Regions from separate parts of the Homo sapiens genome. Here all the other regions are linked to region 1. The links come from fine-mapping of genetic effects on gene expression. A gene starts in region 1. Each other region holds a variant in brackets. All regions are shown on one strand. Distances are between the middles of the regions. Region 1 holds the start of VPS26A (VPS26 retromer complex component A). Region 2 overlaps VPS26A (VPS26 retromer complex component A). Region 3 has its middle 17 kb from the start of SRGN.

Region 1 (2,500 bases):
TTTACAATTTAGTTTCTGTTTGGGTAACTTGAAAATATAAACTGCTCTTGAACATAATTCAAAAAAGCGTATTAAAAGTAATAATTACAAATGTAAGCAAAAAATAGGAGGACCTTTTAAGTTTTCTTTTCAAATGATATTCAATTAAAGAAGCCTGCCCTAACACTGACTAGGCAAGGTCCCCCAATACTTCCTTCTTAGTATCTGTCACAATTCTAATTTCCACGTTAAACAAATAATTTACACAAATAAATGTTTATCTCTCCCTACATTGTAAGCTACGAGAGCAGGTAGGCGCTGTTTCCATTTTACTGGGGTCCCCTAGGCACACCTGAGCAATTATTTGTTGAATGAAAGAAAAAAAGCTCTAAGAATGAACATGAATGTCTGGATTTTGTTTTGTTTTGTTTTGAAAGCAACATCATTACTGAAATTAAAAGTTATTTATTCAAAGTAGCTTTTTAAAAATATACCTGGCTCGGCCTTTTAAGCCAAAAGTCTCAAGCAGTCTATTGAATCAGTGAGCTTTGGGAAGAGCAGGTAGTATTAGGAGAGCATACAGTAGGCGCTAAATGAAGAGAACTGACGACTACTACCAGAAAATGGGTAAAATGAGATCTAACCTAGAGACTGCCGACACCCAGCTAAATACCACAATGCCCAGGCTAGTGCTTCCGCGGACTGTGGTGAGAGCACTGATTCCCCTCCCTCCTCTGCCTCATAGGCCGTTTCAACAACCCAGAGCGTTAAGTTCAGCGAAATAGCTTGCGGACGGAAATGAGAGCCAATGCTTAAAACGGCGGGCACCAAACGGGTGTCTCTGGAGTTAAAGATATCCCCCATTCCAACGTCCTTTTATTTTTCTCTCCCATTTTACAAGTGTCAACAGAAAGCCTGAACTGGGGTCATGAAATCAAAGAATGTCACCATAGTCAGGTTTTAAAATATCAGAGTTTATCAAGTTCGTGACACACTGAGTGCCCAAGTCCCCCGAAGAGTCCGGAGGTGGGGGGCTCCCGGGTCGCCCCACCTGGATGGAAGAGAGGCTGCCCGGGAGGAGAACAGGGACTGGCTACCTAGGAAGGGGAGGCGGCGACCAGCCCCCGCAGAGGCGGGGTCCGAGTCCCCAGCCAGAGCCCCAACAAGCAGTCGAAGAACGCGGGCAGAGGCTCCGACATGGCCAGGAGAGCACGCCGCCGCCCGTAGGTGCTCGGGCCTCGCCGAGACCGGGAAGAGGTGGCGCCGCCAGCTTTTCCCAGACCCAGGGGTGGCCCGACAGGCCTAACCCCGCTCCCCGCCCTGCTCCCCCGTCCCCTCCTCCGGCGACGCCCGGCCCGCGGTTGGCCGGCCCGCCGCGCGCTCCGGGACGAGGGCGGGAGGCGAGCGCGCTGGCCGCCGCGCACTCACCATTGTCAACGCCGCCGCCGCGTCCCCCCTACTCCACTCCTCTTCCCTCAGGAGAACTCCCAGCCCCGGCTCCCTCCGCTCCGGCGCTCCGTCACGTGACCTCGGGCCGCCCCTCACACGTGACCGCTCCCTTCCTCTCCCCCACCCCCGCACCCGTCCCTCTCCCAGCCTCCTGCCCCGCCCTGCTGGCCGCCAGGCACTCCGGGGAGAGGCCGCTTGGAGGCGGGGCCTCAGGCTCCACCCTTCGGAGGGTGGAGAGGGGCGGGCAAATTACGTCGAGTGGGCGGGGCCTGAACAGAGGCGGGTTCGCGGGCTCCTCCTCGCCGTCTCTTCGGTCACCGGACGAGCGGTTCCGTGTCCGGCCTCTTTACCGCACCCAGTTCCTCTTTGTGAAAGTTTGAGCGGCTGGGAAGGAAGGAGGAGAGGAAGGATTCATCTGGAGGCTCTCTCCTTGGCTGGGTCCTTGGGTTGCCGAGGCGAGTGGGAGCCCTACTTCCTTAGGCCTCGCAAGAAGAGATGTGCTCTCTTCGTCCACGGCGAGGCGTTCTGCCACCTTGCCTGAACGCAGTCCCGCTCCACCTCCTTCTGAGTCTGGGTTTTCTTAACTTGGCTTTCTCGCCTCTGAAGAGAAGACCAGTAGAAAAAAATCCTAGGGTACAACTTTCATTGCTTCCCAAAGTCCCCAGATGGCCCCTGAGCGACCCACCCTGAGCCTGGAGGGCTCACAAACCCACCGTTCCGCCCAGCCGTTCTGAGAGGGCAAAGGCGCTCCCCCGAAAGTCCCACGGCGCAGCTGAAGACTACGCTGGCCTGAACTGGATCCTCCTCCCTAGTGTAAGCCTATAGGACCTCCAGATGAGGAAAATACTGTGTGGGATTTCAGAGTATAGTGTTGAAGGGCCACAGTGCACTCTATGCATAACCAAAGCAGAAGAAAAATCCATCCCTGAACGCACTATAATTACCCCACCTTAAAACAGAAGTTTGTGAGGCGAGTCCATGAAACAGGTATCAAAAAAAATTTTTTTATACTTAATCCTCAGTGTGAGCCTCAAATTTAAGAGGATTGAAATCAGAGTATCATCTCTAACCG
Region 2 (2,552 bases), 48 kb before region 1:
AGCTGGGATTACAGGCATGTGCCACCACGCCCGACTAATGCATTTTTGGTAGAGATGGAGTTTCTCCACGTTGGTCAGGCTGGTCTCGAACTCCTGGAACTCAGGTGATCTGCCCGCCTCAGCCTCCCAAAGTGCTGGGATTACAGGCGTGAGCCACTGTGCCCAGCCTGATTGGTGCGTTTTCACAAGCACTGATTGGTACATTTTACAAACCTCCAGCTAGCCAGAGTGCGTTTTACAATCCTAGCTAGAGTGTTGATTGGTGCATTCTACAATCCCCTTGTAAGACAGAAAAGTTCTCCAAGTCCCCACGCAACTCAGAAGTCCAGCTGGCTTCACCTCTCAAAGGGATCTTCCTGTCTCAGCTTCCTAAATAGCTGGAAATACAGGTGCATGCCACCATGCCCAGCTCATTGTTAATTTTTTTGTAGAGATAGGGTCTCATTTTTGTTGGCCAGGCTGGTCTCGAATTCCAGGTGATCCTTCCGCCTCAGACTCCTGAAGTGGCTGAGATGACAGGTATTTTTTTGAGGTTGTTTTGTTTTTAATGCTTATGGCCCAGTCTCTGAGATTCTTATTTTATTGGTCAGAGTAGGACCCGGGCCTGGTTATTTTAAAAGCTTCTAAGGTGATTCTGATATGCAGCCAGGGTTGAGAACCAATGGATTAGACATTGTAACTCTTCATTAAAGACACAAATTTCTTTTTCAGTTTATGACTTCTAATTAGCTGGCTGACTTTTGACTGAAATCACCAAATATTAAATTTGAATTTTTTTCAAATTGGTTATGCTACAAAAAGTCTTGAGCAAAACGGATAGGCATCCTGTATATGACAGTTTTAAGCCAGCCTATTAAAAGCATTATATATCTATTTAAAATTGAAACCAGTAATATTTATAAAAATTCATTATCACAGTTACAGCTTCCTAAACTATTGAACAATCCTATCCTCGACAATAAATCTAACAATGAGAAGAGATTTGAGAACAGAGCTATTTTAATCATGCAAACAGCAAGCTCAGTTTCTGTTTCAAATTCTTTATTATACATCATGGTTGCACAATTTGAGGCTGGTTAAATACAATTGGTTTTCAAAATCTCTTTGAATATTTTCTGGCTTACTACATGCAAATGACCATGAAAATATTTGGCATTTTAAAATTCTGAAACTCTGAATAGGCACTTACATGAAGGAAAACATTACCATTCATAGATATCCACATGTAGAACAGATGCTCCAGCACATGGTGGTACATGGACCCTTTTGCCAGTAAAGTTGGTTCCTGACCATTTTATCAAAGTGCCATAGTAGTAAAACAGGTTTAAAGAAATGTAATTTGGGTTATTTAGCTTACTCATAAAGTAAGGTTAACTGACAAGACTTGCACTGAAGTGCATAAAAAATATTGGTACAAAAACCAATGAACCATAAGTGAAAGTAGTTTCCA[T/G]ACAGCAGGTTTCATTTTGGTTCCTACACTCCACATTTAGTGTATTTGCGATCAGACCCCATGCATATGAATGGATGACTGCAATCTTCTTTTTTAGAGACTTAAAACAAATGACTTGAATTTAGTGTTAAAAAATTAAGAGACTAGATGAAGTTTCAATATGAGTTTAACTAGCCAAAGTTCGAGTTTAATAAACATGAAATTACCCAGATCTAGATAACTACATGCTTCACAGGTCCTCCTGAGTCCCCCATCCCAAAATTTTCCCCTGAAAAGAAAATGAATGTATGAAGAAAATAATATTTGCATACACATGGCAAAAAGATTCCTTAAATTGAAATATATAAATATGTTTCAAAGTATTTATGGAAAAAATAGTTTTAACAAATCTAAAATGCCAAGCTAAGTCAACTCCACATTGCAGAAAACACACAACGGTACTACTGGAATATAGCAAAACTGTTACTTAATATGGCCAAAAAAAAGAAGGCCATAATGACCTGCCACATAATCCCTTGGGGAAAGAAATCTAATATTCATAGCACAGAAGACCTCAAAGAGGATAAAATTCTGGAAGCCATGGAATGGTACTCAGAAGTGCCTGCGGTGAAACACTCCATATGCTTTTCTCAAACACATATGTTAAAAACAAATGTAGTTCTCAAAAATATTGAGATGCCATGTTTTAAATCTCTGCAGGACACAAGAGGCCACTCAGGTTTTCTAATTTTATTTGAACACAAAATATTTAATTTTTTGCATGTAGAGAATAAGAGGTAATCATTAGCCTGAAAAGAGAGGATTTATAATCAACATTATGCAGAAAGAAAGCAAAATTACAAATACCAGCCTACTCACATGAAAATTTTTCATGTTTACGCTGATATATATCTGAGTGCTTATCATCAAAGTAGGAAGTTAAAAAAAAAAAGGCAGCTTAACAAAGTTCCAGTGTTTCAAAGAAAGCACTTTTAAAAATGTATATACATGAACGAACATTTCATTATATCATAAAATAAATGCTGCGCTGTAAGATAAAGGAAGACTAACATATATGGAGTTTTGGCCTTTTTCCGCCCCCTCCAGCTGCAACCATCTTTAA
Region 3 (2,500 bases), 54 kb after region 1:
ATACCCTCGCAGTGCCGGGCACTTAGGCCCTCAGGTTCAAAGTCAACTCCAACCTGTATTAAAATGTCAGGGGAGGAGAGATTAAGGCTAACGTTTTCCACCTGCCCCCCCCCCCACCCCACTTCTTTACACCTTCATTTCTTTTTTAAATGTTCTGGAGTATAAAAAATAACAAAGTAAGCTAAAATAAAATTCTGAGCAGAGATGGAGGACCCCAAGCCACATGGCTTGCTTTGGACCCTGTGTGCACCCTCAGCGCCACCCTCATGGCCCAATGCATACCCAGTGGAAGGAGAGAGGCTGGAAAACTCTGGACACTTTTGTCAGGGCTACGAACAGGAAACCCGCCTAGTGGAAAGGAGCCAGGTCCTCTGGCTTTGGAGAAGAATGGGCTCAGAGAGATGTGAGATACCGGGAAGGTATTTTCAAGCATGCGAGAGAACGTGCTGATCAGTACTTTTCCATCTCCACAGGTGATGGAGCAAGAAAAAATAGTTCTATTTTTTAGTACAAGAGAATTCAGTGAGATTCAGAAAGAATGCCTTATTTAGAAGGAGGTTAAACACCAGCAGAATATAACCAGGGGGAATTTGAAATCTCCAATTTTGCAGTAAAATATCTTTCGACTGAAAAAAAAAAAAAAAAACAAACAACATTCATAGAACAAAGACCATGCTCCTTTTCCCAATTCCTATGGATTCTTATTTATTTATTTATTTGTTTACTTATTTATTTAAATTTAGGACACGCCAAGACCTTTGAGTATCCAATAGATTCTAAACATTAGAGTTACGATGGCAACAAAATGGTGTGGTTGGGAGCTGGGGCTTAGAGTCACACTACTTGGGTTCAAACTTACCGCTTTCTAACTGGGATCTCAGGCAAGTTGTTTAACCTCCTTGTGCCTCAGATTTTCTGTCTTTTAAATGGGGATGATAGGCCAGGCACGATGGCTCATGCCTGTAATCTCAACACTTTGGGAGGCTGAGGTGGGGAGAATTGCTTGAGCTCAGGAGTTGGAGACCAGCCTGGGCAACATAGCTAGACCCCATCTCTATTTTTTAAAGAAATAGAGATCAAAATTACACCATCCTCATAGGAACACAGTGAGGATCAAATAAGCCCATCTGTGTGAAGACCTGGAACGTGGTAATTAAGAACAATGCCAGCCACACAGTCAGTGCCCAGCTCACCATCAGAGTGTGGTAAAGTTAGAAGTTCTGGAAGGCATACGTCATTTCCCAGAGGGGAAGGGCTGGAATAGGGACCAAAAGGGCAATCCTTAGTTTAGACAGAAGCTGCAGGAGACACACTAGATCTGGACCTGAAGGATAGGGAGTTTGCAGGTACAGTAGACAATTGGGA[A/G]GCTGGGAAGGAAAAACAACAGAATCAAAACCTTCCTGAGAAATCATAAACCCATTTGCCTTGGTCTTCTTTAAAGAGGCGAGGAAGGGCTTACTACATGCCAGGCAGGGTGGGTGTGAGAGCTTACCTGGTCCTCACACAGCTCTGCCAGGCTGGCCTTCTGGGTCCCACCAGGGAGAAGGGTTCAAGCCTGGCAGATAAAGGGAAGGAGCAGGCTGAGCACAGTGGCTCACGCCTGTTATCCCAGAACTTTGGGAGGCCGAGAACAGAGGATCGCTTGAGGTCAGGAGTTCAAGACCAGCCTGGGTAACATAGGGAGGGAGACCCTGTCTCTATTTTAAAAATAAAGTGGGGTAGGGAGTCAGAACAGGCCCCAGGTTTCTTTATGTTGACCAGGCCAGGTGGGATTATAATGATAATAATCACATGTAAATTGTGAGCAGGCACTGATGTAAGCACTTCTCATGTACAGTAATAACAGTTTAATCCTCTCCACAGTCCTCTGAAGATTGTACTGCTGAGGAAGCCGAGGATATAATTTGATCGGCGGAGGGTGAGTGCCAGTGGGAGAAATGCAGGGTTCCTGTCCAATCCAGGGCAGGCTTCCAGTGCTCAAGCTGGGGTGGACTCCAGGAGGGCTGACCCCATAGCAGAGAGAGTCCAGATCCCATCAAACCTGTTGTGAAACACAAATTTGTTCAAGTTCAAGCTTGTGAAACACAAATTTGATGGTGTCTTGACCCTCCAAACCCTCCAAAGACACAGACATCTAAGCACGCACAATTTCTTCCTCACAGAAATGTCCATTTAAGGCCTCTTAATCCTGGCCTCAAATCTCATTGGGAAGGGCTTCTTGGATAGAGTCCTTCAACGGCATCTCTTATTCTGCAATGTGCATGTAAAGCAGAGATAGGGAAAGCCCCACAGTGGGTGTGTGAGACAAGACCCCATAGAGGTCCAAGTCCTGAGATAAGCGGGCCCTCAAGACACCTGGCCGCTTGCCTCAGTCCCCTAGAGAGGATAATCATTGCCTCAGGTTAGCCACACAGGACGAGGTCAGGGTCACCCCTGACTGCCCTTCCCAGGCAGGGGAGACAGGAATCAAGGCCACTCACTGCCTGGGCCCAATGTCCCC

Evidence for each region. PIP is the estimated chance that this variant, and not a neighbour inherited with it, causes the effect. A credible set is the group of variants that fine-mapping cannot tell apart.
Region 2: its variant is the best candidate, but not a certain one, in a credible set for the expression of VPS26A in whole blood (TOPMed, PIP 0.56).
Region 3: its variant is the best candidate, but not a certain one, in a credible set for the expression of VPS26A in monocytes after interferon gamma (Fairfax 2014, PIP 0.75).

Annotation. Positions count from the first base shown.
Region 1 is chr10:69,123,188-69,125,687 of GRCh38, reverse strand. VPS26A (VPS26 retromer complex component A) reads right to left here and starts at 1,510. Exons shown (of 9, transcript NM_004896.5): 1 at 1,408-1,510. The coding sequence starts at 1,410. RefSeq lists enhancers at 546-1,052, 1,917-2,276 and a silencer at 1,257-1,656.
Region 2 is chr10:69,171,334-69,173,885 of GRCh38, reverse strand. It overlaps VPS26A (VPS26 retromer complex component A), which reads right to left. Exons shown (of 9, transcript NM_004896.5): 9 at 1-2,552. Among named protein-coding and RNA genes, the nearest start is that of SUPV3L1, 7.6 kb to the left of the region's middle. The variant T/G (reference allele first, on the strand shown) is at 1,451.
Region 3 is chr10:69,069,636-69,072,135 of GRCh38, reverse strand. No RefSeq gene overlaps it. Among named protein-coding and RNA genes, the nearest start is that of SRGN, 17 kb to the left of the region's middle. The variant A/G (reference allele first, on the strand shown) is at 1,366.